Homo sapiens: one gene and its partners. The protein of the gene in region 2 interacts with the protein of the main gene of each other region in a pairwise test. Each region holds a gene or a part of one and is shown on either strand. Other genes may lie near its edges.

The links.
Region 1: the proteins of MX1 (region 2) and CAB39L interact in binary tests that used the Homo sapiens proteins (3 or more experiments, as listed by UniProt).
Region 3: the proteins of MX1 (region 2) and TRPC6 interact in binary tests that used the Homo sapiens proteins (3 or more experiments, as listed by UniProt).

Annotation. Positions count from the first base shown.
Region 1 is NC_000013.11:49,350,039-49,357,075, reverse strand, and holds part of CAB39L (calcium-binding protein 39-like), read left to right. Parts: intron 1-6,163; coding exon 6,164-6,332; intron 6,333-7,037. UniProt on the Homo sapiens protein: Component of a complex that binds and activates STK11/LKB1. In the complex, required to stabilize the interaction between CAB39/MO25 (CAB39/MO25alpha or CAB39L/MO25beta) and STK11/LKB1.
Region 2 is NC_000021.9:41,422,271-41,429,268, reverse strand, and holds the start of MX1 (interferon-induced GTP-binding protein Mx1), read right to left. Parts: upstream 3,031-6,998; 5' UTR 3,006-3,030; exon of another isoform or gene 2,723-3,005; intron 2,064-2,722; 5' UTR 1,965-2,063; intron 1,515-1,964; 5' UTR 1,403-1,514; intron 1-1,402.
Region 3 is NC_000011.10:101,451,038-101,455,018, forward strand, and holds the end of TRPC6 (short transient receptor potential channel 6), read right to left. Parts: coding exon 3,981-3,981; intron 2,689-3,980; coding exon 2,613-2,688; intron 2,070-2,612; coding exon 1,918-2,069; 3' UTR 527-1,917; downstream 1-526. UniProt on the Homo sapiens protein: Forms a receptor-activated non-selective calcium permeant cation channel. Probably is operated by a phosphatidylinositol second messenger system activated by receptor tyrosine kinases or G-protein coupled receptors.

The sequences.
Region 1 (7,037 bases), on a different chromosome or scaffold from region 2:
GTTACCATTTTCTTTTTTTTTTTTTTTGAGATGGAGTCTCGCTCTGTCGCCCAGGCTGGAGTGCAGTGGCGTGATCTCGGCTCACTGCAACCTCTCCCTCCCAGGTTCAAGCGATTCTCCTGCCTCAGCCTCCTGAGTAGCTGGGACTACAGGCCCATGCCACCACGCCTCACTAATTTTTTCTATTTTTAGTAGAGACGAGGTTTCACCATGTTAGCCAGATGGTCTTGTGATCTGCCTGCCTCGGCCTCCCAAAATGCTGGAATTACAGGCATGAGCTACCGCACCCAGCCCCTGTTACCATTTTCTAATTTAGCACTGAATGCTAGAGATTTAGCCCTTCTTAAAAGTCAGGATTTTTACCGAATTATCCTTGTGAAGTCACTTTAAAACCTAGGGCATAACTTGATTGGTACATTTACACATCAAACAATAATATAAATGAGAGTATGATAGTAACATTCTGTATAGAACCTAAGTCTAACCATAAAGAATATAAGACAAAAAGCAATTGATACTTGTGTATCAAAGAGAATTATCTGGATATGTGGTATTAAACATGGTAAAATGTATTTGGAGCCCAAGTTCTATGAAAAGATTATAAATAAGGACTTACTCACTCTAAATGAATTTGTCTTCTGGCTCAGGCAAATGACATTCCAGGGTACTGAGAGAACTTGAGAATGAGGTCACTGAACAGCTCTCAGTGATCCATAAAGAACTGTGGCCAGTGGACTATGTTCCAGAAGGCTGATGTTAAAATCATAAATTTCTCCCAATTATCCTGTTTTTTTAAGTTTATTATAAAAAATTTTAAGCAGTTTCATTTTGGCAGTTATTTTGTAGATGGTGCTATGTAGTTCATATTTCATCACATTAGGAGATGTACTTTTAGTAATGCTAAGACTGAGCAATGGGTTCAGTTGGTGACAGTCTAATCCACTATAAAGTTTCCCATCAACCTTAAACTTAATTGTTTTACCATCCATTGATGAACATTGCCTGATTCCGTCATTTTGCTAGAGGTGACAAAAAGGTAATTTTGAATTCTGTCATTCCTTTTGTATTTTTTATTGGCTAAAGTAGTTTTATAGAGAATACTGTCATTCACCCACCACAGCTTCAGGTGTTAGAATACTCTGAAGTATAATTCATACCAGAGAGGCAGAATAAATGCTCAATTCTTTTCTTTTAATTATCATTTTAGAGAAAAATAAGATATCCTAGGAACTTTCATCGGTGTCTAATGAGTTATTTCCCTCCCTCCCCCTGCCTTTATATATGTGTGTGTGTATAAATATATATATATATTTATATATGTACAGAGACACACACTCTTCTAGTATCTGATGAACTAATGGATTTAATGTTTTCTATATGTCTTATTTAGTTCTACACATGTTTTTTTAATGCTCAATTGGCCATCTGTGGCCCCTTCTAGGTGATATCTCTTAACATCACTAAAATAGTTTCTGAGAGCTTCTTTGCTTTCTGGTGTAACGAGATATGCCACCCAACTTGTACATTTGCTGACAAAGACCTGAAATTTCTACCAAGGATGTTGGTTCTTTTTAGAGAGAAATGGTTCTTAGAGACTACAATCTGGTTGCTAGGGGTGCTCATTGACATTGGATTGTTATTGCTTCTAGGCCTTTTTGGTGGACAGAACTAACTCATTATTTTATTTATTTATCGAGACAGGGTCTTGCTTTGTTGCCCATACTAGAAGGTAGTGCTGTGATCACAGCTCACTATAGTCTCAACCTCCTAGGCTCAAGTGATCCTCCTGACTCAGCCTCCCAAATAGCCGGGACTACAAGTGCATGCCACCACACTTAGCTAATTAATTTTTTTTTTTTTTTTGTAGAAACAGGGTCCCACTATGTTGCCCAGGCTGGTTTCAAACTCCTGGGCTCAAGCAATCCTCCTGCCTTGGCCTCCCAAAGTGCTGGGATTATATGCATGAGCCACTATGCCTGGCCTAACTCATTATTTTTAGTCAGCAAATGTTTCTAGATTAGAAACATACGTTCTTGACTATATTGAGGAGGCCAAGTGTTTGTTGAATGGCATTTTACAAAAGCTTTCCAGGTATTTCCTGGCCTTGTTTACTTCCAGCAATAATCACAAAAGTCATTTTCCCCCTTACATAATGTAATCTTTGTTCTTAAATTGAAATATTCTTGCACAAGATCATTCTTCTGACCATTTTCTGTGTAATGATTACTGTAGCTCACTGCCAGCTGAGACCATTGCTCTTACATTTTGGCTTTCATTAAATTTGAGAGAGACTTTTCATTATGCTGTCATTATTTGATGGGCATGCCTAGATAGTGCCTTCTCCACACTGACACAGTTCATTATAGTCCAGACTATATGATCTAAATTACAAATCAAGAGGGAAGATAAGATTCAGTTCTATAAAATAGTGATTCAGCATTCATCAGATTAACCTTTACTGGGGACCTGCCATGGGTTAGCCATTGTGGAAAATGCAGTAATTAGGCAGGATCCTTGCCATCAGGAAGCTTATCTATGAGTAGAATAGATTAGGTGGGATACATATTGATTCTTTAACAGACCTAAGGATATTAATGTTAGTGGGATTTGAAACTTAACCTAAGCTTATCTTTTGGAGCACTTCTTTAAATAGTAAGCAATAACCTATCAAAAGTCAATATACTAGAGGGTAGTCAGGTAGAAATGATCTATGTGAATTATAAATCACTTAAAGAGTACTGAGGAGAATTAGAATTCCCTATATATCTCTGTATATCCCTATGTATTTCTGAATTTAAGAAGTTGTAATCTCAGAATGACAGATGTCAAACTGCTGGGATGAAATGACAAGTGTGCTGACCCAGAGGAGTCTTGGTTTTTTAAAAACATTCTTTTGATTCTCAAGAATAAACTGTCAGTGCATCACAGATGGTTTCAATAAGCTTCACGAAATGAAAGGAAAAAGAGAACTAATTATACCCAAAAGTTAGAGTGGAAACTTTTTATAGATGGTCTTAGTTTGGAAATTGAATTAAGAAATGAGAAAATGTTGGCCAGAGATGATGCATATTTTGTATACGTCAGAGTTTGACTCTCATTAGAGTACTCTAGTATTAAGACATTTCTTCAGTTTGAGGTTCATTAAATTCATTATATGCATGCTTCGTGAAAAACATTATAATAGGCACTCTTCGGAGACTGGGGTAGGGACAGGAGAAAGTAGCAATAAATGACATAGACACCAAATGGAGATGGGGATAGGGGAGGAGAGGAGAAGGTAACAGGATAAGTAAAACATATCCCCAACAATTAAATTGATTGTAATGAAGAAAATAGACCTATAGCAATTTACTGCAGTATAACATAATACAGAATGAAAAAAGTGTTAAAGAGAAATTACAGACAAGCTGTTATTTGAGTGTGAAGGGCAGAAAGAATAATCCTGAATTGTAGTGATTAGGAAAGGCTTCAAGGAGGAGATGGCATTTGAACTAAGCCTTGAGAGATGAGAAGCATCTGAGTTGTGGGAATGTAAGAAGGGCATTCCAATTGAGGGAATGAGGGGCTCCAGGGAAATAACGAATGTGATGGGAGATGAAACTGAAAAGTTAAGGTTAGGGCCAAATTACAAAAATCCACATATATCTTGCTGATCAATAAGTCTGGATTTTAATTGTCCTTCCCTTAGATTCTTTCTCTAGGCCAACAGCCTTTATTTTATACTCTCTTGAGTACTCTATCAATAAATGACAGTGCTTTTCTCCTTTACATTTCAGAACATATACCCCTCTTTACAACATCTTTAATAAAACCCCACCTGACAACTGTTCCTTGTGAGCCAATAGGCTGAGTTTCAGGTTTTTCTAATAAGAGAAATTGCTAGCACTATAAATTGGCATTCCTTATATTCTACAAAGAATCATGACTATCTGAATGTATCAGCATTTAATGTTACTATGAGTTATTCAGGGAATACTCAATATTTGTGAATATCATTCTGCATAAACAGGACAAAAATGAATAAATACCACCCTGGTATCTTTGTTTGCTGTTTCTTCTACTAATATTTGTAAATTTGATATTGGAAAGTAGTCTATTTCCTCAATTGAATCTTTATTCTTGAATCTGTCTTTCATGAAAATTCTATAATCTTATAAAGAGTAGTACATTACTTATTGTTCAACAAATGTTGTTACTAGTAGTTGATGAGTAATAAAATATCTTAAAGTTTTATAGTATCATAAAAGTTCCATAAAAACTAGTATTCAGTTGAAATGGTCAATGATATCTCTTTAAAAATATGGTCAGATTTTATTTTATTTTATTTTTATTTTTGGAGACAGAGTCTCGCTTAACTTTCCAGGGTCAAGCAATCTCCCACCTCAGCCTCCTGAGTAGCTGGGACTACAGGCGTGTGCCACCATGTCCAGCTAATTTTTTTAGTTTTTGTAAAGTCAGGGTCTCAGCTAAATTTTTTATTTTTTTATTTTTTGTAAAGTCAGCCATGTTGCCCAGGCTGGTCTCGAACTCCTGAGCATAAGCAGTCCATCCACCTCAGCCTCCCAAAGTGCTGGGAGTACAGGAGTGAGCAGTCACGCCCCACCAGATTTTTTTTTTTGGAGGGGGCCCTATATTCTGCTCACTTCCCAGTGTATCACAACTATATCTTTCTTTGTTCTATTCTTCCTATATTTACCACACAATTGTCAACTGTATTATTTCAATACAGGGCTTGTTGTACTTGGGCTAAGCATTATTCATTTTCTTGAAATCTTATCACACACTGGAATATATCTTAAACTTACTTAGAGACTGAATTTGACTTTGAGAGATTGTTGTTGTATTAGAAATGGAACCAATCTGGTATGCCAGTCCTGAATTGTTTCCCACAGTAGACGTTTCGTTTGTCTAGCATATTTTTTGCTGTGAGCCATGATTCCACTTAGGATTTAAGTGAGTCAATCAGTCCACAGCTATGTATTAGCCACCTACTGCATGCAAATCATATATTTATATAGGTCTCTCCTATCTTTTTCCTAAAGTCCAGATAAGTGTATCATACTGCCAAGGAGACCTTTCTACTTAGATATCAGCCATCTCAAAACTAATGTGGTCAACCACAAACTCTTAATTTCTTTACTAACTTGTTCCTCTACTAGTTTATTCATCTTAATAAATAGCACCACCATCTACCCAGTGATTCAAGCCAAAAACATAGGAATCATTCGTGAATTCTCAGTTTCCAAATTTATTCCCTCACCCAACTCCAGCTACATCATCAGCAAGTCTTGTTGACTCTTCCTCCGAACAGTATCCACCACCTGCCCACAGTCCTCTGTTCTGCTCCTGCCACCCCAGGCCAAGCCCCCGTTCCCTCTCCTGGGTTCTGCTCCTGTTCTTATATGTCTCCTGCTGTTTTACAGACATTCTCAACAAGAAGCCAGAGTGATCTTTTTAAAGCATAAGTTAGTCTTGTCAATTTCTTGCTTTAAACTCTCCAAAGGCTTCCCATTACACTTAAAATAAAACCAACTGCTTACCTTGGCTGACAAAGCTGTATCTGATCTGGGATCTGGCCCCTGCCCTTCTCTCCACCCCTGCCTCATTTCACACCACTCACGGTTCTTCCTCTACAATCGAATCACACAGGCTTTATTCCTCCTTCTCTGTTTCGCCAAGCCTGTTCTTGCCATGGAGCCTTTGAACAGTTTTTTCCCTTTGCCTGGAACATTTTGCCTTTTCCTTGAGTCTAAAGTAAAGTAACTTAAGTAGTCACTCACACACACACACACACACACACACACACACACACAATTTAGTCACCTTTATAATGTGGCGTATTTTATTGTCAACAGTTTTTACAGCCCTTCTCAGTGTATGAAATTATCTTTTCATTGTTTACATTCTGCCTCATCCCCCCACCCCCAGCTGTCACCATGTTCATATTTGAGTATATCTAAGTGTTTCAGAATACACTCAAATTCCAGAATACGTCTGCAATAGTGCCAGGCACATAGTAGATCTTCAGTGGATATTGAATGAATCGTGACAAATGGTATGTATGCTTCCATTAATAGCAGTATTGAAATGGTTCTTTTGATGCCATTAATATTATTTTAATAGGATAACAGAGTTCTCTATTTCTCTCTTGTTTACGCTTTAGATATGAAGCCCCACAGATTGCCTTACGTTGTGGGATTATGCTGAGAGAATGTATTCGACATGAACCACTTGCCAAAATCATCCTCTTTTCTAATCAATTCAGAGATTTCTTTAAGTACGTGGAGTTGTCAACATTTGATATTGCTTCAGATGCCTTTGCTACTTTCAAGGTAATTTTTTTTTTCCAACTCAGCTAGGTCAATTTATAGTCACTTGGCCCCTGAAGAGGCAATTTAATTTTAAAAAGCAAGAAATTTTACTTCTTAGGCCTCAGTGTAGCCAACCATGTATGATGTGGATCATAAGAGGAATCTGTAAATAGAATGCAGTCTATGAGGCCAGTCTGTCCTATTGCAGGAAAACAACTCAAAATATTTGTCACAAGCTCAAATGGAGTGAATTCCAGTATATACAGTTACGTGGGAAAGGAATATGTAGTGCTCTGTGTGTGGCATGCTGTCATTTATGTTAAAAACAGATTAAAGGGCATAAGCTTCCACTTAAGGTACATATGCACTGAATACCTCTGCAAGGATGCATAGGAAACAGCAACAGTGATTAATTCTGGGGAAAGGAACTAGGTAGTGAAGGGAGATGGAGAATTACATCTTTGAATATGAAGGACATCATGTTATTTTATGAATGAAATTTTTAAATGTCCACATGGTGAAACAAAATAGTAAGAAATTATATTGTCGTTGTTTCATAATCATCTATAGTTTGATCATGTATTATCTACTTTGTCACTATGTAGGAAATCGTAGGATGCAATATATTCACATTGTTAGGCAACCAACTACCAGAACTTTTTTATTTTGAAAAATTCAAACTCTACCTCTATACTTATTAAATAATAACTCCCCATTTCCTCCTCC
Region 2 (6,998 bases):
GATCATTCGGAACATCAGTTTGGATTTCAGGGGCAGGGCAATCTCGGGAGTTCAAACCGGTTTCTTACTCCTCCATGGAACTTGGCATCCAGCTGCAGTCTTCAAACTGAACTGAGTGCAGGCACCAGTTCCGGCCTTGGAAGAGCCAAGAGGTGGCGACTCCTAGCTCTCCATCCCAAATTGCTCCTAAAATGTCTTGGCTGCACCCTGTGTTTGGAGAGGAGGCTGCAGGGTTCCAGCCCTCCATCCACTCGCTACTGCACAGCCCCACTGGTCAGAGCCTGAGATGTTAGGTGGGCATGGATGGGGTTATGCACCAGGCTCTTCTCACATCCTGAGCAACTGCCCCTGTGCAGGGGCTTCCTTCCGTCCCTGCCCAGGGCAGGTTTGTGCCCATGATATATAATAATGACTTGTGACCCTAATGTCTCAAAATGGAGGCACTCACTAGGTAGCATTAAGCCCATATTAAGTTTCTTTCTTTAGAAACAATAAACATACGTGTTTCTCACTTTCGCTCATAGTAAAGGGGTTTTTCTTCAAAGTGGTAAGCATGTGTGTGGTAGACTAAGGGGATGAGGGAACACTTGCTGTGGCCCAATGCCACCAGAGACCCCAGTGAATAAGGACCCAGTGGCACGCACACCTGTGGAGGATCGCAAAAGCGACAAGGGACTAGCAATGTCTGAAGCGTTTTCGGAATCTTGGCAGTGAGATTTCTGAAAGCTTATTCCTGACTTTGGCAGCTGGGCAGCCGAGGACGAGGTCCCTGGAGGAACAGATTTCCCTCCACCACCCAGCACTAGAGCGGGACTTCTGGACTCCCTGGAGTGGCTGTCAGTGGGCTGGCCTCCAGAGCCTCCACTGTGGGTCCTTACCCTATCACTCCCTTTAATCATTGTACTGTGAATGTCTGCTCAATTGTGTGTGTGAATCTCTCACAATAAATCCTGAATTTGAGAATCACTCATTGCCTGCTGGGTCACCCTGAAACCTTTTGGGAAAGTGAAAGTTAGCGCACAGGTGCAGGAAACCTGGTTAACATAACAACTAAAATGAACCTGACTGGGTGCAGTGGCTCGTGCCTGTAATCCCAGTACTTTGGGAAGCCAAGGCGGGTGGATCATTTGAGGCCAGGAGTTTGAAACCAGCCTGGCCAATATGGTGAAATGCTGTCTCTACTAAACACATACAAATTAGCCAGGTGTGGTGATGTGTGCCTGTAATCCCAGCTACTCAGGAGACTGAGGCACCAGAATCGCTTGAACCTGGGAGGCGGGGGTTGCAGTGAGCTGAGATGGCGCCACTGCACTCCAGCCTGGGCGACAGAGTGAGACCTTGTCTCAAAAAAAAGAAAGAAAGAAAAGAAAGAACCCAACGGCCCACTTCATTTCTGCCTTACCTTGGAATGGTGGCTGGATGGCGGCGTTCTTCACTCCAGATTTCAGGGAGTGGGAGTCTTCCTGTAGCCTCCGACCCAGAACCGATCTCCTCGCAGTGTGGCCACAGAATTCCTGCAGTGAGGGTAAAGGTGGCATCCAGGGTTGTCAGGGGGTTCTCTCCTTGTGGTGAAGCTTCCTCAGCTCAGACCCCATAGAGGAGCAGGGATGGGAGGTAGGATTCAGCCCCCTTCCTCTCCCAAAACTCCTAATAAGGACCACCTACTGCCTACGTTCTAGGAAATGCCTAAGATGGAAGAGGCTACACTTTCCCAACATAATCCAGTCTAGTTTTTTCTTTTTTTATAAGCTTTTAAGTTCTGGGGTACATGTGCAGAACGTGCAGGTTTGTTACATAGGTATACATGTGCCAATTCAGTCTAGTTTTAAAACTAACTCTTGCAGGACTGACATTCACCTTTTCTTCTGAAAGCGTTTTTCCCCCCAAACCCTGCTGGTATTTAAATTTGTTATGAATAAAAGAGAGAACATCTTGCCCTTTAGACCAAATGCACTGCTACCTACCAAAGCCCCTGAGCTGGGTGAGCAGGTGGGCGGCAAGGGCGCGAGGGAGGCGTGTCCACCGTGACACTGGGATTCCTGGCCGGCAACTGCGGTCCAAGGCTGAAAGATGACACAGCCATTTTAGGAGCCCTTTGGGACTGACACCGGTGGTGGAGGTAGAGGCGCGGTTAGCATCACTGGACTCTACTTCCCAGTAACAAACGTGATTTAAAATTTAACCAAATAACTTGGGCCATCCCAATTGCCCAGCTCGGCAGCACCTGCTGTGAGTGTTGGTGGGATGGGAGCGCAGGTCTCAGCTGTGCCCGGGCTCCTTCTGCCACCCCCGGGACTGTCCTGCCTCCCTTCGTCCACCGCACCCACTCCACGATCCCGGCCAACTACGATGGACCCCGAGGGTGCGTCAGCCCCACGCGCCGGGGAGGCCCCAGGCATGGCATCCACTGGGGCGGTGGGGGGGAACAGCGGGCAGGGGTCTTCCCGCGCATGCCCCATCTCGGCCCAGCTCGGAACCCCCTTTATTCAGCAGGATCGGCGAGAACTCCTTGAACCTTCCCTCCCCAGCGACCTCCGCAGTCTGACTTGGGTTTGCTTTCGCGCGTTCCCAGGAAATAGAAGTCGACGGAAAGCAGTGGTCGGCGTTCGGGTGGGCTCGTGGCCCGCGCAGCCGTGGATCTGAAACTTTCCCGGCGCCCTTCCCCGCTTACTAGAGTCCCTCGGAGACCTCCCCCGAGCCCCGTCCCCCACCCCTTCCCAACCTCTCCTGCAGGAAGGCCGCGGGTTAGGGGGATGTTTCTGATGCGTCATCAGGAGCCTGGGCAGCCTGGTGGGAACCAGAATCAGGCGTGCTCCGAGCCCGCCCATCAGCGCCCTTGCTATGATTATGATTATTATTATTGTTAGTTACTAGCAGCCGAGAAGGTGCCCCCGTCGTGCCCGTGCTCCGGAGCGCTAGTCTCCGCCACGAACGCCGCTCTCCCAATGCCCTTCTCCGCGCTCCTAGCGCGGTTACTGGGCGCTGCCCCCAGAAGCGACACTCACCGGTCCCTGCGCAGTGCTGGAGTGCGGCCTCCGCTCTCGCTTCGCCTCTTTCACCCCGCGCCCAGCCCCGCCCCGCGCCGCGAAGAAATGAAACTCACAGACCCTGTGCTGAGGGCGGCTCCGGGCGCAGAAACGAAACCTAGCTCCTGGCCCCGCACCTGCAGCACTTGCCTCGCGGGAACTCGCGGGAGACGCAGGTTCTCGGGCCCGAACCCAGGCCTGCTGAATCAGATGCTCGTTTCATCAGGCCCGTCTGAGGATCAAGGTGCTCCGGAGGCTCCCTAATGGCCCGGAGTCATCCAAGCCTGCACGTATCCTTGAACCTAGGCATGTCCTTCCCCCCGTCGGTTTTGAAAACAGATGCATTGGTAATTGGGGGTCTTCAGTTCCCTCCCAGGGCTCACTGGGATGATCCCAGCACCAGCAGGGACTCCCAGGCATTGTGTGCCAATGGCTGCAGAGCCCCTCTTGTCCCGAACTCCGTCCAGCACTCCCACCCCTAACCAGGCACACCCATACCATCTTCCTCCTTTCCCGTTTCCCCTTGCCCACTTCTAGGCCTCCCTGGAGTCTGGCTCATCTGGCCTCTCCAGGGTGGAAACGGGTGTGTGGAAGGAAAATAAAATAAAATAAATAAAATAGTAATAATAAAGCTTAAAATAATAAACATAACATAGGTAATAGTTGTCAGGCCAGGCCATCGCATCCCAGGCCAGGCCATCGCATCCCCTGTGACTTGCAGGTATACATCCAGATGGCCTAAAGTAACTGAAGATCCACAAAAGAAGTAAAAACAGCCTTAACTGATGACATTCCACCATTGTGATTTGTTCCTGCCCCACCCTAACTGATCAATGTACTTTGTAATCTTCCCCACCCTTAAGAAGGTTATTTGTAATTCTCCCCACCCTTGAGAATGTACTTTGTGAGATTCACCCCTGCCCACCAGAGAACAACCCCCTTTGACTGTAATTTTCCATTACCTTCCCAAATCCTATAAAACGGCCCCACCCCTATCTCCCTTCGCTGACTCTCTTTTCGGACTCAGCCCGCCTGCACCCAGGTGAAATACACAGCCATGTTGCTCACACAAAGCCTGTTTGGTGGTCTCTTCACATGGACGCACATGAAAACAGTTAACATTTAGTATAAGCTATTTAGAAGTAACACATAGGCTAAAATTTTAAGCAGCCCCTCCCAGCATTGTAACAAGTTGCAGATGCAAGCTTATCTCAAAAGCTTATCACCTGCCTCGGGACCCCAGCCTCCAACCCTAGTCCAGCTTGGAGGATGACTAGTCAATATAACTGAATTGCCAGTTTCCTCAGAATTGTCACGGGTTAAGTAATTTACTGTCTTTGTCTGAAACCTGTATCCTACCTTGTTTTTCCCATCTCAAACGACATATAAGCTAGCTGCTTTCTTTGTTGGGGTTGGCAGCCATTTTGGGCATGAGCCTGCTGTTGGCCCGAATTAAAAGTTCTGTTTTGGTCTCCAAAGGTCTCTTTGTCTTCCTTGGCTAGAGTTTTACTGCAAAGGTGAAAGGGGTTGGGGAGGGCTGAGTCAAGCAGACCCATGGGTGGTCCTCCCTTTGGGAGCTCCCATTCTCGGCTAACTGGCTGTGAGTGGGAGATGGCATTTCCCTTTGGGAGCGGTTGGCACCCCACCTCCATTCTCCTTAGCTCAGCTCACAGTCCCTTACAAGCCCCCGCTAAAGACTTCCATGATTAGGAAGGGTCACCCCCAACCAACCTCAAGGCCCAGAACCTGCCCCAGCTTTAGGTCCTGGGGTCAGGGGAAACCTGGATGGAATCAAATTCAATACTGCTGCACCTACAAGAGGGGGAGGAGCCCCCCAGCCAGCTCCCTGTGCTGAAATCTATTTTGCTTTGCAGGATCCACTCCTAGGGCTGGGCAACCCCATCCAAGGGGTTCTTCATCCAAGGGGTTCATCCAAGGGGAACACAAGTTCTCCCAGGAATTAGCAATGACCTCACTTTAACACACACACACACACACACACACACACACACACACTCAACCCCTCTGGGCCTTTTACTTCCTAGTCAAGAACCCAGGCAACAGCACATCCTGGGGGACTGTGAGCAGGCTGGGCTGATGCTTTCTGAAGCAGGAACAGTGCCTTGGGAACGCAGGGTAGGTGTGAGCAGAGCTGGCACTCATGTGAACAGAGACTTCACTCTGGGTGATGCTGCTGCTGTTTCCAACAGCGGGAGGCTTCCCTAAGGGCCCTTGTTCACGAACAAAATCAGAAAGAGCTGCAGGCAACTGATAACCAGATAGAGGCACAACCTCAGCCAGGGCAGGACTCGGAAGGGCAGTGAGGCGCCCTGCCCAGGAAACACAGCACACACAGCTCACTCCCAGTTGGTGCAATGCCTCCTTAAGTTTTAACGCCCTAGGCACTTCCCTTGTCCACCGCAGTCCTTCCCTGGCCTTAGATTTTGGTGCTTCATTGCCTCTAATATGCATATGATATGGCAGGGCCTTGGGGAGTATAGGTGGTTGTTTTGGGGTGTAATTCAGCAGTCAGTCATACAATAATAGCTCCTGTCTACTGAGCATGTAGGATGTGTTAGGTGTCAGTGAGAGACGGGACGAGCTGGATGTCCCAGGCCGACTAAGAATCCCTAAGCCTAGCTGGGAAGGTGACCACATCCACCTTTAAACACAGGGCTTGCAACTTAGCTCACACCCGACCAATCAGGTAGTAAAGAGAGCTCACTAAAATACTAATTAGGCAAAAACAGGAAGTAAAGAAATAGCCAATCATCTATTGCCTGAGAGCACAGGGGGAGGGACAGTGATTGAGACAGAAACCCAGGCATTCGACCCAGCAATGGCAACCCCCTTTGGGTTCCCTCCCTTTGTATGGGACGTCTGTTTTCACTCTGTTAAATCTTGCAACTGCACACTCTTCTGGTCCGTGTTTGTTATGGCTGGAGCTGAGCTTTCGCTTGCCATCCACCACTGCCATTTGCTGTCTGCTGTTGTTTGCCGCCATCACAGACCCACCACTGATGTCCACCCCTCTGGATCCGGCAGTGTGTCCGCTGTGCTCCTGATCCAGCGAGGCACCCATTGCCGCTCCCATTCGGGCTAAAGGCTCGCCATTGTTCCCGCATGTCTAAGTGCCTGGGTTCGTCCTAATGAGAACACTCACCACATGCCCCAAGATTCCATTCCTTGGAATCTGTGAGGCCAAGAACCCCAGGTCAGAGAACAAGAGGCTTGCCGCCATCTTGGAAGTGGCCCGCCACCCTCTTGGGAGCTCTAAAAACAAGGACCGCTCGGTAACATCAGCTAGAGGGACTCGTGTGCAATCACTCACCTTAACAGCCACCCTCCCAGAGGAGTAGGATTATCACACCATGTTCTCCATGAGAAGACCGAGGCCTAAGGAGCTGGGTTCCATATTGGTAGAGCTATGGTTCCAATCCAGGTGATCATTCTCCAAACCTGCGCTCTTCAGCACCTCCTCGCTATGCTGAAATCAAGAGGCAGCTTCTGTACTTAAGAAGCTCACAACCTCCCACCTGAATTGCAGAGGATGTGTGCTCTATTAAACGAACAGCAGTTACTCTTTTTTTTTTCCTACCAGATAAGTTTCACACTCTTATACTCTGATAATGGCCCTCTCTTCTTCCAGGCAACTTCTGATCCAGTCTCAGTTACCCCATTGCCATCCCTGAACTCAGGACCCAGGTCACACTCAGAGGCTTTGTTGATGCCTGTCCCTCTGCCAGGCTGCCCTCTGTCCACAGGCTCAAAGGGAAATTCATCTCCCCTGCCTGAAGTGAAGGAGTAAGAGAATGGCTACTCCACAGAGCAACCCTGAGGGCTGCTGGTTGCCCATTTTTGTGGTTATTCTTGATGATATGCTAAACACGGGGTGGATTATTCATGCCTCCCCGTTTTAGACATACATGTAGGGTAACTTCCTGACATTGCCATGGCATTTGTAAACTGTCA
Region 3 (3,981 bases), on a different chromosome or scaffold from region 2:
TGAGACTTTTCCCATGCTTATGACCATCTTTTGGCGATGTGCCTGTAATGAAGCTCTTATCAGAATTTTAAAAGCTTTCTTAAAATGCGTTTAATTTCCTTTTTCATCTTCCAACTTAGAAGAAATGCCAATTATTCTAAGTTGGAAGATGAAATTCGAAGAGATGTCAATTCAGTTGCACTTTGATGAAAATCTGACTTCAGGACATTAGTTTGAACCATAAGAGCCACCAGGAGGGTAGTGCCTTTTGCTGAGGAACCCACAGTCATGCCTGTTGAGTTTCCCAAAACTTATATCTTGTCAAGTCAATCCAACTTAAAAGACACTGAGGAATCTGAATATCTTTTCTTGAGTCTTCTGGAGTCAAGACCATGTGCTGTCATAGAGCATCCTTGGGATGAAGGTCCATCTCTCGCATGGCACAACACACACTTTTTTGTGGATGTTAGATTATTTTAATTTGCTGATAGTGCATTCAGTATGAGGTTGATTTTTTACAACTGCTGATTCAAATACTGTCACAAAATATTTGAAAATCGATCTTTATGTATCACCAAGTAACTTTTCCATAAGTAGTATCCACAAATACAAAATCACTGAATATAAATTTTCAGCTGTATTTTCTGATCTGGTTACATAAATGTTCTTTGATTTAAATTAAGCCAAAGTTGGAGCTAAACAGATTTTCTGCAACCATTTCATCTTTAAGATGAAGTTAAAGATTTGCATTTGAAATCTCCCATTATTGAATTGGAAGTAGCAGTTCCAGTTAATGTCCAGCATCCTCTGAATGCCAATGGTCTTTGAGTAAACATATGAACCTTCATCGCTTTTAGTTGTTTAAGACACCACTTCACATGATCAGTAAGTAACAACAACAACCTCTTGGTAAATGCACATGAATGCAAATTCCTGTTTTATATATTTGGGTAGAAGGATAGAACATATTGAAAATAACAGATAAGTATTTACAAATTCTCACCTTATTTTTCCCCTTTACATTCAATGGCTAAGTGTGGGGATTCATCTGTAAATGCTCCCAGAAATGGCACAAAATTGTGCTATAATGGAACCAAACAACCACAGTGTTTGTTTGGGGTTTTGATTTTTCTCCAATAAAAGGTACTTATTTAGACAGTAAAATTTTTTAGTGACAATAAAAATTTATAACATAAAGAGCTTTTGTGTGTCCACATTAGCCACAAACTAGGGCAAGTACTTTATGTCTGTGTGTACACATTTACACACACGCACACACACAAAACTGGACCATGTTTCCAGGGTTCAGTGGAGGAAAAACTTTTTTCATTGTTAAGTGTAATGTTTTCAAATAGATGAATCAGAAAATTTTACATAGATGTAAGACCATTTTGTATGAACGGTATCAATCATGTGCATTGAGGGATAAGTAGGGTAAATGGTGTTTAAACAGCATTCTAAAGAAAGGATTAAAGCATTCTAAAGGCCCATGGGCTACTTTTTCCCAAATTTCAGAGCTGGGAGTCCCCAGCAGGGGATCCACAGAGCAGGCAAGAAGGAACCTGAAATAAACTTCAGAGGAAAAACCGCATGGGGAGTAACGTGGGTCAGCCCCTGTCCGCTGGGACCCATTTTCAGGCAGACACTACATGGCAATGACATCATCACAAGAGTTAGTTATATCCAAGAAAGCAGTTTATAAAACAAGCACCAAACAACTGGGCATAATTTTCCTCATTATCTACAGCCTTTACCCTGAACAATGGAGTTTAATCACCAAAAAAATTAGATACTAGGGCTCCAGATGATAGGATGGCCCAAGTTATTTAACGTTTTCTTGTTTAAAAGGTGGGCCCATTGGCACTTAAGAAAATAAATCAGAAAATAATATGGCTTCAAGTGGACAAATAAATATGAATTTCTAAGGAAGTCTTCGCATTATCTATTGGTTTCCTCTTGATTTGGTTCCATGGATAATTTCTCTCCAAGTTCTCTAATAAGTTCTGCTAGGTCTTCTGTATTCTGAGATTTTTCTTCAAGGAGTTCATAGCGGAGACTTGAGATGTCCTGCTTAATTTCCTTCAGTTCCCCTTTGAAAGCAAGAGTGATAAGAAGTCAACTATAAATACGCAATGCGGAAAAACTAGTGACTGTGGGACAGGAGGAAATCAGCTCTAATTTCACACACAATTTTATTTTGAATCCTTTGAAAGGAAATAACTTCCTAATTGAGCAGGTTTTTGTTTTCTTAGCTAAGTGTTTTTGTGAATGAAGAGATTATAGCAGAATGATAACAAAAGCCCTCCTAAAGTAAGTTAAAACAAAAAGGTGGTGAATGATTCAGGGGTTGAGGCAGCAGCCCCTTCCTTGCCTTTCCCACCCACTTCCTCCTCCCTCCAAGTCCACCATAAGAATGAGAGCTTTTTATCTAGCAAGTGGCACCTGTCCCCGCCTGTGGAGACATAGCCTGTTCCCCACTCTTTAACAGAACGGCGGTTGGTGAGATCCTGTTCTACTTTTCCCCTTGAAGTTCACTCTCCCTGTACGCATCTCTGCAGCTCTCCAGGCACTCTGCGCTAGGCCCCCGTCCTGACTCACATTCAGGGGCTGATTTGCTTCTGCGTTCAACTCACCTTCGTTCACTTCATCACTCTCCTTATCTATCTGGGCCTGCAGTACATATCTTTTAATGAGCCTTTTCATTATTTTCTAGAAAACAGAGAAAGGAGAAATCTATGTCAGTTTCAGGTTCATGACAAATCTCTCATTTGGAACAAGTTTCAGAGTCTTCCTCCCTGTAGTGAGCCCTTTGGAAGTGATGGCTGTCAAGGACTAAGATGATTCAGCCAGGATGCAGGCGATCTCTACATTTTGCTTTCCTTTTTAAAGCAGTTTTCACATCACCTAGGCTAATGACTCAAAAGTGAGTTCTTAGAAAAGAATGTTTAGAGCAAGTATGAAATCCTTTATGTCCATTGCTTGTATTTTATTTGAAAAGTATTAGAGTAAGACAGTCTTTCAGTGGGGTAGGTAAAAGATGTACACTACTGCTCGTGGAAATGGGAAATTAAGCTAATGTCTGCTCATTTAAGCCCCACGTCTGACCCACCAAAAAATGGAACCAATTTTTATTTTAAACTTTCTATTAATTTAGGAATGCTAGTTTCAATGTAATATATTTTTCAAGTACCTGGGCTTCTATCATGCAAACATTGCTTTTATTATATATTTTTCATAAAAAGAAGGAGTCTTAGTGGGTGCTCAGAAAGTCTTGATGGATATAGAACTAAATAAAATTTTACACCTAAGCCAAGGTTAAATGGTAGATAGTAAAACTCTACCTTCAAGAATCTATTCTAAAGATATGATTTAGTACATTAACAAGTATGTTCATAGAACTAGTTATATAATAGACAAAAATGAAACTTTAAATGTTCATCAGTAAGGAATTATTTTTAGTAAATTATATATTTGTATGAAGGAATATGATACATTCACTGAAATTAATAGGAATATATATTTTGTGGAGAGAAAATCACAAGCTAAAAACTATTACTCATTATATAAGTATTAGCTGATTTATATAGTATTATATATGCATTTTATAATAATATTAAAATATATGTAAAATTATGCACATATAGGCATATAATCATCTGGCAGAATTTTCACCAAAAGCAAGCAGACTTTGTTTCTCACTGGTGGAATCTGACATGAATTTTACTGTCGTCTTTATGTTTTTTGTAAGGTTTGCCTTTTCAATGAACACTCTCTTTTTTAATGGAGACTTTCAGATCTGTGATTCCAATACTTTATTTTTTTTAACTTATATATCTCTGTCACTTACAAAATGCCTGGTACATGGTAATTAATAAATATTTATTGAATTAATGCATTATTTGATATTGAGAAAAATATCCTGATACTTTAAAGAATCACATAGTTCAAGAACCTAAATATTACAAGTAACTAGTTTTATTCCTTTAAAAATCCATGCTTACC